Homo sapiens: one gene and its partners. The protein of the gene in region 1 purifies or fractionates together with the protein of each later gene. This does not show direct contact. Each region holds a gene or a part of one and is shown on either strand. Other genes may lie near its edges.

The links. The genes of interacting proteins can lie anywhere in the genome.
Region 2: the proteins of EAPP (region 1) and GPATCH1 purify together in Homo sapiens (affinity purification with mass spectrometry; 3 studies listed by BioGRID and IntAct, with this or other methods). This does not show direct contact.
Region 3: the proteins of EAPP (region 1) and SMYD4 purify together in Homo sapiens (affinity purification with mass spectrometry, with the first as the bait; one large-scale study listed by BioGRID). This does not show direct contact.
Region 4: the proteins of EAPP (region 1) and DHX38 purify together in Homo sapiens (affinity purification with mass spectrometry, with the first as the bait; one large-scale study listed by BioGRID). This does not show direct contact.

The regions. Positions count from the first base shown.
Region 1 is NC_000014.9:34,533,202-34,536,701, reverse strand, and holds part of EAPP (E2F-associated phosphoprotein), read left to right. Parts: intron 1-426; coding exon 427-608; intron 609-3,162; coding exon 3,163-3,258; intron 3,259-3,500. UniProt on the Homo sapiens protein: May play an important role in the fine-tuning of both major E2F1 activities, the regulation of the cell-cycle and the induction of apoptosis. Promotes S-phase entry, and inhibits p14(ARP) expression.
Region 2 is NC_000019.10:33,091,181-33,094,680, forward strand, and holds part of GPATCH1 (G patch domain-containing protein 1), read left to right. Parts: intron 1-2,178; coding exon 2,179-2,339; intron 2,340-2,991; coding exon 2,992-3,089; intron 3,090-3,500.
Region 3 is NC_000017.11:1,784,903-1,788,402, forward strand, and holds part of SMYD4 (protein-lysine N-methyltransferase SMYD4), read right to left. Parts: intron 2,703-3,500; coding exon 2,520-2,702; intron 2,072-2,519; coding exon 1,908-2,071; intron 1-1,907. UniProt on the Homo sapiens protein: Protein-lysine N-methyltransferase. Monomethylates PRMT5, modulating its transcriptional activity. May also act as a histone methyltransferase. Plays a critical role in cardiac development.
Region 4 is NC_000016.10:72,107,347-72,110,846, forward strand, and holds part of DHX38 (pre-mRNA-splicing factor ATP-dependent RNA helicase PRP16), read left to right. Parts: coding exon 1-202; intron 203-298; coding exon 299-453; intron 454-880; coding exon 881-1,036; intron 1,037-1,126; coding exon 1,127-1,261; intron 1,262-1,453; coding exon 1,454-1,579; intron 1,580-2,068; coding exon 2,069-2,164; intron 2,165-3,500. UniProt on the Homo sapiens protein: Probable ATP-binding RNA helicase. Involved in pre-mRNA splicing as component of the spliceosome.

The DNA.
Region 1 (3,500 bases):
AAACCATCCTGGGCAACATGGCGAAACCCCATTTCGACAAAAATTAAACAAAACAAAACAAAACAAAAAAACAGCTGGGAATGGTGGTATGTGCCTGTAGTTCCAGCTACTGGGGAACCCGAGGTGGGAGGATTGCTTGAACTGGGGAGGTGGAGGTTGCAGTGAGCTGAGATCATGCCACTGCACTCCAGGTTGGGTCACAGACTGAGATGCCATCTCAAAAAAAAAAAAAAAAAAAAAAAATTAAAGAAGATTGGAAATATGCAGAACTGGCTTATTAAGTGAGAATAGCTATATGTAATGTATAAGTACATCAAATGTAACCATGTAATACTTAAAATTGTTGTTGGACAGTGAGATGCTGGGAGTTTAAAATTATTTTAATTTTTAAATATTCATATTCTTTTTGATTTAAATGTATGCTAGCTCTGAGGATGAAGTGGATGTGCTTTTACATGGAACTCCTGACCAAAAACGAAAACTCATCAGAGAATGTCTTACCGGAGAAAGTGAATCATCTAGTGAAGATGAATTTGAAAAGGAGATGGAAGCTGAATTAAATTCTACCATGAAAACAATGGAGGACAAGTTATCCTCTCTGGGAACTGGTAAACTTTTGGTTCAATTTTATATATATTTTTGTAAGCTCTGTAAGGGCAGGAACCTTATTTGTGCTCTTCTATGTTCCCAGCACTTTCAGTAGGTGCTCAATAAATATTTATTGAATGAAGGAGTGAATGTATTTGGCAGTCTGAGCTAGAGTCTTCCTTTTCTCATTTAAAAAAGTTATTTATTTATTACTTTAGATTCAATGTCTCATTCTGTTACCCAGGCTGGAGTGCAGTGGCATGATCATAGCTCACTGTAGCCTAAAACTCCTGGGCTCAAATGATCTTCCCACCTCCGTTTCTTGAATAACTGAGATTACAGGCATGTACCACTGTGCCCAGATAATTAAAAAAAAAATTTGGGCCGGGCACGGTGGCTCACGACTGTAATCCTAGCACTTTGGGAGGCCGAGGCGGGCGGATCACGAGGTCAGGAGATTGAGACCATCCTGGCTAACACGGTGAAACCCTGTGTCTACTAAAAATACAAAAAATTAGCCGGGCGTGGTGGCAGGCGCCTGTAGTCCCAGCTACTCGGGAGGCTGAGGCAGGAGAATGGCATGAACCCAGGAGACGGAGCTTGCAGTGAGCTGAGATCACGCCACTGCACTCCAGCCTGAGCGACAGAGCGAGACTCCATCTAAAAAAAAAAAAAATCTGTAGCGACCGGGTGCAGTGGCTCACACCTGTAATCCTAGCACTTTGGGAGGCCGAGGTGGGTGGATCACCTGAGGTCAGGAGTTCGAGACCAGTCTGGCCACCATGGCGAAACCCCGTCTCTACTAAAAATACAAAAATTAGTTGGGTGTGGTGGCACGTGCCTGCAGTCCCAGCTACTTGGGAGGCCGAGGCAGGAGAATTGCTTGAACCCGGAAGGCGGAGGTTGCAGTGAGCTGAGATCGCGGCACTGCACCCCAGCCAGGGCAACAGAGTGAGACTCCGTCTCAAAAAAAAAAAAGGCCAGGCGTGGTGGCTCATGCTTGTAATCCCAGCACTTTGGGAGGCCGAGGCAGTGGATCACGAGGTCAGGAGTTTGAGACCAGCCTGGCCAATACAGTGAAACCCCATCTCTACTAAAAATACAAAAATTAGCTGGGCTTGGTGGCACGTGCCTGCAGTCCGAGCTACTCAGGAGGCCAGGCAGGAGAATCGCTTAAACCCGGGAGGCAGAGGTTGCAGTGAGCCGAGATTGTGCCATTGCACTCCAGCCTGGGTGACAGAGCTAGACTCCGTCTCAAAAAAAAAAAAAAAAATTTGTGGAGACAGGGTCTCACTATGTTGCCCAGGCTGGTCTTAAACTCCTGGCTCAAGTGATCTTCCTGCATTGGCCTCCCAAAGTGCTGGGATTATAGGTATAAACTATTGTGCCTGGCTTGGAGTTTGTTTGATGACTGTCTTGTGTTCTTGGAAAGAGATTAGTTAATACTGTTTACTTGCATAATTTTATTTTGCAGTTTTTACTCGAGTTAAAAAAAAAAGACACACAAACTTACAAAAGTATTTTTAGGGTTAGATGGCACTAAAATGTGGCAGATTTAATTATGTATCATCACAAATTTCTGTTTCACTTTAGTGAGTAATGAAACATAGTTCATTTTGATACTTGGTCTTTATGTAAAATGTACCTGACCTGAAAACTGGTTTGTGAAAGTAGGACTCTTCTGCCGGGTGCAGTGGCTCACGCCTGTAATCCCAGCACTTTGGGAGGCTGAGGTGGGTGGATCATGAGGTCAGGAGCTCAAGACCAGCCTGGCCAACATGGTGAAACCCTGTCTCTACTAAAAACACAAAAAATTAGCTGGGAGTGACGGCAGTTGCCTATAATTCCAGCTACTCGGGAAGGTCAGGCAGGGGAATCACCTGAACCCAGGTGGCAGAGGTTGCAGTGAGCCGAGATTGTGCTATTGCACTCCAGCCTGGGCAACAGAGTGAGACTCAGTCTCAAAAAAAAAAAAAAAGGAAGTAGGACTCTTCAGCATTGATTTCCACCCTGATATGCTATGTATTAGCTGGAAAAATCTGAAAGCATATAAAAATATAATAAAAACTAAAGCAGATGCTAACTAAGAGGAATTAGGGATATGGGCATATGATGACATAAGTATAGGTAATGTCATGGTCCTGGGCACAACTGAGGAGAAGAATGTGTCCTTGACTCATTCCTCCTGCCTTCCTATAGGGTTCTTACCCTTTTTCTCCTAATGTTTCTTAGAACAAAATGTTTGTTCTATGTTCTGCATGGTATACTGTATGACTGAAAGGTAGAGATATGTGTGCTGGCAACCTGAAAATATCGCTATTTTATTTAATGAGATTTGTGGGAAGGGAGAGAGAAGAATTTTCTCAAGATTTGGAACATTTTAAGGAGGGCCAGTTCTCTGTAACTGTATAGGGCATAGACATCGAGTAATTCACTGATGTGAAAATATTTCACCATCAAATGAGTTTGTGAATGAGTTGATATTGTTTTGAGGTGATGGAAGAATATATGGAGTTTTTTGCCTTGTGAATTATGTATGATTTAGTCTGTAAACTTTACTTCTGGTTTGAATAGGATCTTCCTCAGGAAATGGAAAAGTTGCAACAGCTCCGACAAGGTACTACGATGATATATATTTTGATTCTGATTCCGAGGATGAAGACAGAGCAGGTAAGTAACCTATTTACCAGGTTTAGCAGTTATATTTTATAAAAAAGGTTTACCTAACAATTATTAGATGTTAGGATTTCCCTCTGAGTTTGGTCTTTTAAGAAATTACAGCTAGGCATGGTGGCTCACACCTGTAATGGCAGCACTTTGGGAGGCTGATGCAGGCAGATCACCTGAGGTTGGGAGTTTAAGACCAGCCTGACCAACTTGGTGAAACCCCATCTGTACTAAAAATACAAAAA
Region 2 (3,500 bases), on another chromosome or scaffold:
ACAGGCGGATCACGAGGTCAGGAGATCAAGACCATCCTGGCTAACACGGTGAAACCCCGTCTCTACTAAACAAAATACAAAAAATTAGCCGGGTGTGGTGGCGGGTGCCTGTAGTCCCAGCTACTCGGGAGGCTGAGGCAGGAGAATGGCGTGAACCCAGGAGGCAGAGCTTGCAGTGAGCTGAGATTGCGCCACTGCACTCCAGCCTGGGCGACAGAGCAAGACTCCGTCTCAAAAAAAAAAAAAAAAAAAAAAAAAGTAAAGCCTCTATTGCCTCAAAAGCTCAGTATCCATGGTGCTGGGTCTGCAGCTTTCCACAGTAACTCTCAGGCACACTGCAGTAAAGAACTGTGAGTGACTGAACTAAAATTAAACTTCTGCTACCTTAAAACCTGGTCGCGGATTCACCCATGATAAAGATTAAATAGGGAGGGAGAGCATCAGGAAGAATAGCTAATGCATGCTGGGCTTAATACCTAGGTGATGGGTTGATCTGTGCAGCAAACCTCCATGACACACATTTACCTGTGTAACAAACCTGCACATCCTGCACATGTACCCTGGAACTTAAAAGTTGAAGGAAAAAAAAGATTAAATAAAACATTTATATCAGCATGTGCGAGGCTGCAGGTAAGAGGGAAGGAAGTCTCATTCTTTTTTTGAGTAGCATCATCTAGAAGGAAACATATCTCATGTAGCAAGAAGTCTAGATGTGCTGAGACCCCAGGCTCTCTCTTCTCAGTCTTCTGTTGGCAGCTTGTCCTTATACTACCTCTCCTCATGATTGCAAAATGGCTGTAGTAGTTCCAGGTGGCACATCCAGGATGACGTTGTTCAAGAGAACTTTCCTCTTGGTCCCTTTTCTTTTCTTTTTTTTTTTTCCTGAGACGGAGTTTTGCTCTGTTGCCCAGGCTGGAGTGCAGTGGCGCTATCTCGGCTCACTGCAACCTCTGCTTGCCAGGTTCAAGTGATTCTCCTGCCTCAGCTTCCCCCGAGTAGCTGGGATTACAGGCGTGTGCACCACCATGCCTGGCTAATTTTTGTATTTTTAGTAGAGACGGGGTTTCACCATATTGGCCAGGCTGGTCTCGGACTCCTGACCTCAGGTGATCCACCCACCTCGGCCTCCCAAAGTGCTGGGATTACAGGTGTGAGCCACCGCACCCGGCAGTCTCTTTTCTTAAAAGCAAAGTAGCCTTTCATATGAGTCCTACCATGAATTTTCTCTACATTTGCTTGCACAAATTGTTTTACATGCCCATTCCTAACGCAGTCCCTGGCAAGGAAAGTGGGATCAAAATGACTGGCTTAGATAAGACACAAAGCCCCACTTCATAATCCTGCCTCCCCAACACTGGGAGTACCACTCCTGCAATGTGTGGCGGTGCAGAGGAAGGCAGGTGCCTAGACAACGTCAGGACTCTGCAAGGAAAGAGGAAACGTGCCAATGGTTGGACAGGCAGCCAGCAACATCTGCTCCAGTAAAGGCAAAGGCACCTGACTCTAGGCCTGGCACTCACACTTGTGAATGCTTGCTGGCTGGAACTCCAGGCTTTGTCTCTTTCACGCTGACCTTTGAGATACTGTCGAGAAGAACACGGCCATTACTTCCTGTCTTCCCAGCTTGGTCATGCTCGGGGTGGCCCTAATGAGCAGCGACTATCATGCCCTGCCCTTGGCCACTGGCTTTACCTTGTGTGAGGATGAGGTTCTAAAGTCAGTGTGAGGCGGGGCACGGTGGCTCATGCCTGTAATCCCAGCACTTTGGGAGGCTGAGGCGGGTGGATCACCTGAGGTCAGGAGTTCGAGACCAGCCTGACCAACATAGTGAAACCCCATCTATACTAAAAACAAACAGCTAGCCAGGCATGGTGGTGTGTGCCTGTAATCCCAGCTACTTGGGAGGCTGAGGCAGGAGAATCACTTGAACCCGGGAGGCGGAGGTTGCAGTGAGCCCAGATTGCACCACTGCACTCCGGCCTGGGCAACAAGAGAGAAACTCTGTCTCAAAAAAATAAATAAATAAAAAATAAAGTCAGTGTGTATGTCTGTCACTCTGCTGATCCAGAACTAAATTTTGTAGTTTTAACTTTTTTTTTTTAACAGAAATAAAACTATGTGATGTATTGTGTATAGTCACTTTCCAAATAATGTAATTCTGTTTGAATTTTTTTGAAGGATCTTAGTGAATTTGGGATAGCACCTAAAGCGATTGTCACCACAGACGATTTTGCCTCCAAAACCAAAGACAGAATACGAGAAAAGGCTAGGCAGTTGGCCGCTGCTACTGCCCCTATTCCTGGAGCCACCCTCCTTGATGACCTCATAACGCCAGCAAAGTGAGCATTTCCTTCTGACTGTCATGATCTTAGCACCGGTGTTTTGCATATGTGTGATTCTCTTGCTGAGGGATAGTTTGATTGCAAGTGAGACAAGCCTTCTTAGGCTCAAAGTCTAAGTGAAAAAGGGGGTTTTGCGTAAAGGATCTTGCACTGTCATTGCACGGAGAGATTAAGAACTCCAGCCACTAGCTGTGCTGCTGGGGCTCTCAGAGGCTGGAGAGCTGTTAGGAATTACAGTGACTTCTCCCACCACCCCTCCAGACCTTATAGCCTCGCCTCTGTCTGCCTCCTTCTACCCTCACTTTCTGTGTATCTCCTTGTGCTCCTGGGCTTGTGGCCTGATATGGCAGCCTTAGACCTTCAGGGATTCCCAGGCCACATGCTTAGCAAAGACTGTCTAGAGTCCCTGTGATCCCATCGTAAAGGCCCAGGAGAAAGGTCATCTGATTGACTTCCCCAGTTCAGGTGTGCACCCCAGTGCAGCCTGCTGTGGCTGGAATGGCAGGGTCACGCCAGATGTAATGTGGGTGAGGGCAAGGGCCCAGGCAAGACAGGCCTAGGAACTGAGCAGGAACTCAGAAGCCGCTTATTTCATATTCTTTGTTAATGTTATTTTGAAAAGTTCATTTTCAATGCCTTGCTATCCTAGATTATCTGTTGGTTTCGAATTGCTAAGAAAAATGGGTTGGAAAGAAGGACAAGGAGTTGGTCCTCGAGTAAAGAGACGGCCACGCCGACAGAAACCTGGTGTGTATGTTAATTGATTAACTGTTATCACTGCTGCAGCGTACTTTTTTTTTTTTTTTGAGACAGGGTCTTGCTCTGTCGCCCAGGCTGGAGTGCAGTGGTGCGATCCCGGCATACTGCAGCCTTGACCTCCCGGGCTCAAGTGATCCTTCCACGTTAGCCCCGCAAGTAGCTGGGACCACAGGCATGTGCCACTGCGCCAGGCTAATTTTTTGTATTTTTTGTAGAGACGGGGTTTTGCCATGTTGCCCAGGCCCAGGCTGAGGATTGCCTGAGCAAATTCCAATAAACGAAATAGCTGGGCCCAGTGGTATGTGTGTCTTCTAAGGCTTTTTATGTGTAATGCATGACAGCTTCCAGAAAGGCTGTGCTAGTTTATGCTTCTGCCAGCAGCATGTGAGAGTTCATGTT
Region 3 (3,500 bases), on another chromosome or scaffold:
GGGACTACAGGTGCCCACCACCAAGCCCGGCTAAATTTTTGTGTGTGTTATTTATTTTTTTTTTTTAGTAGAGACGGGGTTTCACCGTGTAAGCCAGGATGGTCTCGATTTTCTGACCTCATGATCCGCTCGCCTCAGCCTCCCAAAGTGCTGGGATTACAGGCGTGAGCCACCGTGCCCGGCCTTGATGACAAACATTTCTAGTAGTTATGAAAAAGTCCTCAGAAAACCAATAGAAGGCCAGGTGCGGTGGCTCACGCCTGTAATCCCAGCACTTTGGGAGGGCGAGGCGGGTGGATCCATGAGGTCAGGAGATCGAGACCATCCTGGCTAACACGGTGAAACCCCGTCTCTACTAAAAATACAAAAAATTAGCCGGGCATGGTGGTGGCGGGCGCCTGTAGTCTCACCTACTCGGGAGGCTGAGGCAGGAGAATGGCGTGAACCCGGGAGGTGGAGCTTGCAGTGAGCCGAGATTGCACCACTGCACTCCAGCCTGGGTGACATGAGAGAGACTCTGTCTCACAAAAGAAAAAGAAAAAAAAAAAAAAAAGAAAACCAATAGAAAGGCTGGGCGTGGTGGCTCACGCCTGTAATCCCAGCGCTTTGGGTGGTCGAGGCAGGTAGGTCGCTTGAGGCCAGGAGATCGAGACCAGCCTGGCCAACATGGAGAACATGGCCAACTCGTCTCTACTAAAAATACAAAGATTAGCTGGGCATGGTGGTGCATGCCTGTAATCCCAGCTACTGGGGAGGCTGAGGCAGGAGAATTGCTTGAGTCTGGGAGGTTGAGGCTGTGGTAAGCAGAGATCGTGCCACTGCACTCACTTCAGCCTGGATGACAGGGCAAGACCCCATCTCAAAAAAAAAAAAGAAAAAAAAAAAAACTAATAGAAAAAGGTGCTAGGTGCGATCGTCCTACATTTGACCTTGGGTCTCCAAGTTTAGCTTTCTAACACAACCGGCTCTGCCTTTCACTCATGACTCCCCTAAGAAGAATACGGCACTTGTGGCAGAGGGGAAACCTCCGAGGTGGACATCTGCTGTGTTTCAAAGGCCGATATCTATTTTCTCATTTGGCAACAGCAACCCAACCCAGTTTCTCATAAGGATCCCTCTCACCCTCAGTCCCATGGCCCTTGCCCTACAGCTGAGGGTGTGGCATGTGGCTCACATATGGCTCCTTCCTCTGGCCCAAATGGCTGGAGGAAAACTATGTCTAATTTTCCTCCAGCCACAGTTCTCAGGTCAATGAAACACAGTAACATCTCTGCCCAGGCTGCTGTTTGAGTGGCATGTGCTCTTATCCTCCTTGGCAGGAAATCCGCAGGCTGGGCTGCTGGCAGCCATCCTGCATCGTAAGAGGGAAGTCTATCTGAGGATGGGCTAACACAGAGAAAATGAAGCTGAGAGGGGTGGACAGAAAGCCCCTGGATCAAGCTGTATCTTAAGCAGCCTTATCCTGGAATTTTTCTCATAACATTTTTTTTGGTAGAGACAGGGTCTTGCTATGTTGCCCAGGCTGGTCTTGAACCCCTGGCCTCCAAGTGATCTGTCCACCTCAGCCTCCCAAAGTGCTGGGATAATAGGCATGTGTCACTGTGCCCAGCCTATCCTGGGACTTTTCAATGACTGACTTCAGCAAATAAATTCCCAGTCTCCCCCAGATCCCAAACCAGTTCAGATGGGATCTTCTGTCCTTTATAAAGGAAACATTACTAAATTGAACCTTTCCCTGTGGTTTCTCTGGAGGGGAACTAGTGTATGGGGATGACTGGCTAAAATGGAGGTGATATTACTGGTCTCAGCACTTACAAGTCCCTGATGGCTTCCTCCTAAACACTGATCACCCTTGGGGTGGAAAACTGACCTCCAGGAAAAGTGGAGGAGACAGAAGAGAGAATTACCTGCATGGGCGCTCCGCAACTGTTGCAACAGAATGCTTCCCACCTGGGCCCTGCAGCCATCCTGTGTGCCTCAGTTTGACAAGCTGGACAGGCGCAGTCAAAGAAATACTGAGACCTCAGCTTCTGCTGCCTTTCGGCAACCCCCATCCGGCTCTTGTGAGGCCCTGGAGGGAGATCACCGTCAGCCAATATTGAAAGCAAGAGAGAGTCAAACACTACGTAAAAACCTTCAGCTTAGCAGAGGGTCTGGACAATTACCTATCATGTGACAGCTAACCTTTACCCAAATATTTGTGGAACTGGATACTAAAATAAGCTTCCAAGTTGCTGAGACAGGAAGAAAGAGAAGCCAAGAAGTTGTTCCTAGCCCATTTTCAGAATAGGAAGTTTATAGTGATTAAACAGCGAGACATAGTTTAGCCGCAATAGGGCCCTAGCACGAAGGCCATTCCTTCCATCCTCCCTTCCTTGTTTTTGGCCTAAGTGTTCACTGCCTCTTCCAGGAAGCAGACAGTAGACAGGTGAAGTCACATGCCTGGTGGCTTGCTGACTTGCGTCCCCGTCCTTTTCTGTTGGAGAAGGGCAGGATGGCAGTGCGGAGGGATGGCTCACCATAGCAGTGGAGAATCTCTTGCCCCTTTCTAATCCGCTGTGACGCCCGGATGGTGGCGACAGTGCTAATGAAGGACACGCTGGTGTTGGGGCTACAGGAGTGGTTCAGGAGGCTGATAACAGGGAAGATGCCTGTGGCAAGGCGCACCTGCCTGCTGTCGGTAACGATGCTCCCTTTAGGTCCTGAAAGGGCAAGAGGAAAGAAGGAAAAAGGTGTCAGCACATGAGCCCTGGCCTTGCCCTCTGTTCCTCAGAAGATGAGCTGGGCAGCTAGGCCTGCAGCCCGTGTGAGTCATGGCTCCACAGCCAGATCCAATATAAATCAGATGGGACATGACTCACGGCAAGCTCCAGTCCCCAGGAAGCAAAGTGGATGAACGCACACAAAGTCCACTGGAGTCCTGGAACCTAACGACTGTGTCTCTACACCACGAAATAGCCAAAGATAAGAACTTATAAAGAAGTAATAAAAAAGGGATGATAAGTAGGGAGCGTTCTAGATAGTTTCATAATGTTCTCACATAGAAACCAGAGCCCCTGTTGAGGTGACTTCCCAAAGACTTTTAGAGCCCAAGGGCTTTTGTTTATCTGGTCTTTGGTTGGTTAACAGAACAAGCGACCTAGTTACTACCCCAAACTTTATATATTTAAGCAGGCCAGGCACCAGGGCTCCTGCCTGAAATCCCGAGGCTCACGCAGAAGAATTGCTTGAGCCCAGGAGTTCAAGGCCAGCCTGGACAACACAGCTAGATTTGGTCTCTAAAAAAAAAAAATTAAAATATTAGCCAGCTGTGGTGGTGCACACCTGTAGTCCCAGCTACTCAGGAGGCTGAGGTGGGAGGATCAGTTGAGCCCTAGAGAGCGAGGCTGCAGTGAGCCAGGATTGCACCACTGCACTCCAGCCTGGGTGACAGAGCAGGCCCTGTCTGAAGAAAAATAAATAAAAATTTAAAAAAAGTTTTACTCTAATTGTAACATTTA
Region 4 (3,500 bases), on another chromosome or scaffold:
ACCCAGAGCGCCTACAAGAATGAGCTCCTGACCACCACAGTGCCCGAGATCCAGAGGACTAACCTGGCCAACGTGGTGCTGCTGCTCAAGTCCCTCGGGGTGCAGGACCTGCTGCAGTTCCACTTCATGGACCCGCCCCCGGAGGACAACATGCTCAACTCTATGTATCAGCTCTGGATCCTCGGGGCCCTGGACAACACAGGTGAGGCGGCCCCGGGAGCCTCATGGGTGCTGGCGCTTGACTTCCTTCTTTCCTCTACTGTCCCGTCAAATATCCGGGTTTGCTCATCTCTCCTAGGTGGTCTGACCTCTACCGGGCGGCTGATGGTGGAGTTCCCGCTGGACCCTGCCCTGTCCAAGATGCTCATCGTGTCCTGTGACATGGGCTGCAGCTCCGAGATCCTGCTCATCGTTTCCATGCTCTCGGTCCCAGCCATCTTCTACAGGCCCAAGGTGGGGCAGCGGCTGGCTCCCCTCTCCCCGGAGGGCTCGAGGAAGTGTTGGGGAGGGGAATGGCTTCTCTCTGTATTACTGAAATGGAACAGAGGGCAGAATCAGAGTTTCTGAAGAATGATTTTGCTGTTCTCGGTTAAGCAGGTTGGGGTAGGGGAAAGGAAGGGCTGGGCCAGTGGTTCTCAGGGAATGCTTTGGAAATTTGCAAGAGCATTTTTTATCTTCTAGTATGGTTGCTCTTGAGCCCTCATGTTTTAGAGTAGACCTTTTTAAAAATTATTTTAATTTTTCTCAAATTGTCAGGGCAACCTATTGACATGTTTGAAGTTCTATGTGTGGGTAGGTGGTAGTGTTAGAACCTCTGGGATGTGCTCAGTGGGCCTGGACCCCCCTGTACTTAGAGTGAAGGTTCTTTTTCCCTTCCTAGGGTCGAGAGGAGGAGAGTGATCAAATCCGGGAGAAGTTCGCTGTTCCTGAGAGCGATCATTTGACCTACCTGAATGTTTACCTGCAGTGGAAGAACAATAATTACTCCACCATCTGGTGTAACGATCATTTCATCCATGCTAAGGCCATGCGGAAGGTAGAGTGGTGGATGAGCAGGATGTTGGGATGAGGGGAGGGTCGAGAGGAAAGGAGGGCTCCCTCCTGGTGCCTCCGTCTCCTGCCCTAGGTCCGGGAGGTGCGAGCTCAACTCAAGGACATCATGGTGCAGCAGCGGATGAGCCTGGCCTCGTGTGGCACTGACTGGGACATCGTCAGGAAGTGCATCTGTGCTGCCTATTTCCACCAAGCAGCCAAGCTCAAGGTGAACCCAGGAGCCCAGTGAGCCCCTCCCAGCCTGATACCTGTATAAGGGCAAAGTTCTTCCTTTGTCCTGGTGTGGTTCTGCAGATCTGGGCTTCCGCCAAAGGCTGTGTCAAGAGTGTTAAGGGATGGGGTCGCTGCCCAAATGGGTGTTGTTTTCCTGATGTGGCTGCCTGTTGTGTCTCCTCCCTAGGGAATCGGGGAGTACGTGAACATCCGCACAGGGATGCCCTGCCACTTGCACCCCACCAGCTCCCTTTTTGGAATGGGCTACACCCCAGATTACATAGTGTATCACGAGTTGGTCATGACCACCAAGGTGAGTCTTTTCCAAGGCACTTGCATAATGCAGGCCCCCTGTCTGGCCAGGCTTTGAAACCCTTCACTGCGTTCTGGCATGAGCTTTTAGCCTGGGAGCCTTGAGGCCACATGCATTGTTTTGCGGGGCATGTGAGGTTGGTTTTCATTTGGGGACTTGGGGAAGCTCTGCACAGGGTTGACCTCTAGACTGCATTGACCTCAGCTGCATGGGCACGATTGTTCCCCACTTGCTGCTTGGGATGAGCAACCCCTCTTGGTGTCATTAGAAGGATTTTCGGAGGGGTTGGGCCTTTTCTTTTAGATACTGGGGGCATTTTCTCAAGTGTGGAGGAGTTTGGATGGGAGTATCTGGGGTTTTTCCTTTCCTTTTTTCAGCCTTGCAGGGCCAGGGATTGGGCCCTTCCCATGTGGCTCCTAATTGTGGAACCACTCTGGGAGGGACATTGGCCCTCCTGTGACCCTCGCCTCCCTGCCCTTCTGCCCGCAGGAGTATATGCAGTGTGTGACCGCTGTGGACGGGGAGTGGCTGGCGGAGCTGGGCCCCATGTTCTATAGCGTGAAACAGGCGGGCAAGTCACGGCAGGTGAGGATTCTGTGCTCTTCGCAGGGGTGCTGTTTGCCTGTGGGGTCGGTGTTCCCTCCGCTTGGTATTGAAGACTTGCGGTCATCCAACCCACTTACTTCTCTCTGCAAACATAAAGGCTGTGATCCAGCAGGCTGGGTCTGTCTGATTCCCCACCACCCACTCCAGTTGTTTGGTAGGCTGAGCCTTTAAAAACAAAACCAAAAAACTCATTATTGAAAAGTCCAAATATTCATGAAAGTGGGAAAAACAGTACAACAGGCCACCATGAATTCGTTGCCTTGCCTCTATAATTGTCAACGTTTGTTCAATTTCACTATTCCTACCCCACTCCACACACATCCATTTTTTTTTTCTGGAATATTTTAAAGCTTATCTCATACATTATTCATCCATAAATACTTGAGTATGTGTCTCTGACTAAAAGGACTTAAAATTTTAAATATAACCTCTGTGCCGTTATCACTCATAAAAAAATGAATACTTAATGTCACCTAAGTCTCCAGTCCGCATTTGGATTTCTCCATTTATCTCAAAGATAACTTCTTATGATCGATTTGCTTGAATTAGGATCCAGGCATTGCAACTGCTTATGTGTGTTAACTGTTTCATTCTAGAACAGGCTCCACCCCACGCTTTTTTTCATGACATTGATTTATTGGAGCAGCCAGGTCATTTGTCCTGTCGAATAGTCCATATGATGTATTTGCCTCATTGCTTGCTCACAGCGGTGTTTAACCTGTGCCTGTGTTTCGTGCACTTGCTGTAAGCTGGCGATGAGTCCAACCGCTCAATTAGATCCCGGCTGAGCTGCGTGTGGCAGAGATGCCTGCATGTGGCACTGTGAACCTCCTCTTAGATGCCTTCAGGAGGCATGTGAGGTCTGGTGGCCCCACCTTTGCTGATGGGAGGATGGATGAGGGGCCCCAGTGGTGGCAGCCTGCCTCTTCCCTGATAGGTTTCCACTGCTCCTCCATCTTGAGGTTTTAGCGTCTGTTGATGGCCATTGCCTAGATCCATATTTAGGGTTGCAAAATGGTGCTGGGCTTTGGCTTACCCCTTTTCGTAGCATAATTCTCCCCATACCAGGCTCCCTTGCATCTTATGCCTGTCTCTTCCAGCCAGCAGGTAATCACATCTTCCCTGTTTTTCTGTACTTCCTAGCATAGTTGTGAACTTGATTTTTCAAAAAAGAAGGAAATGTAAGTACTTCCTGGACTGAGGGATGACTGAGTTAGGACTGATTGTCCAGTGTCTTGAGTCAGTGAAAAAAGCAGGCCTCAGCTGCAGAAGAGAAGGCGGCTTTGGTACTGGGGCAGGCAGCCATGTGGAGCAC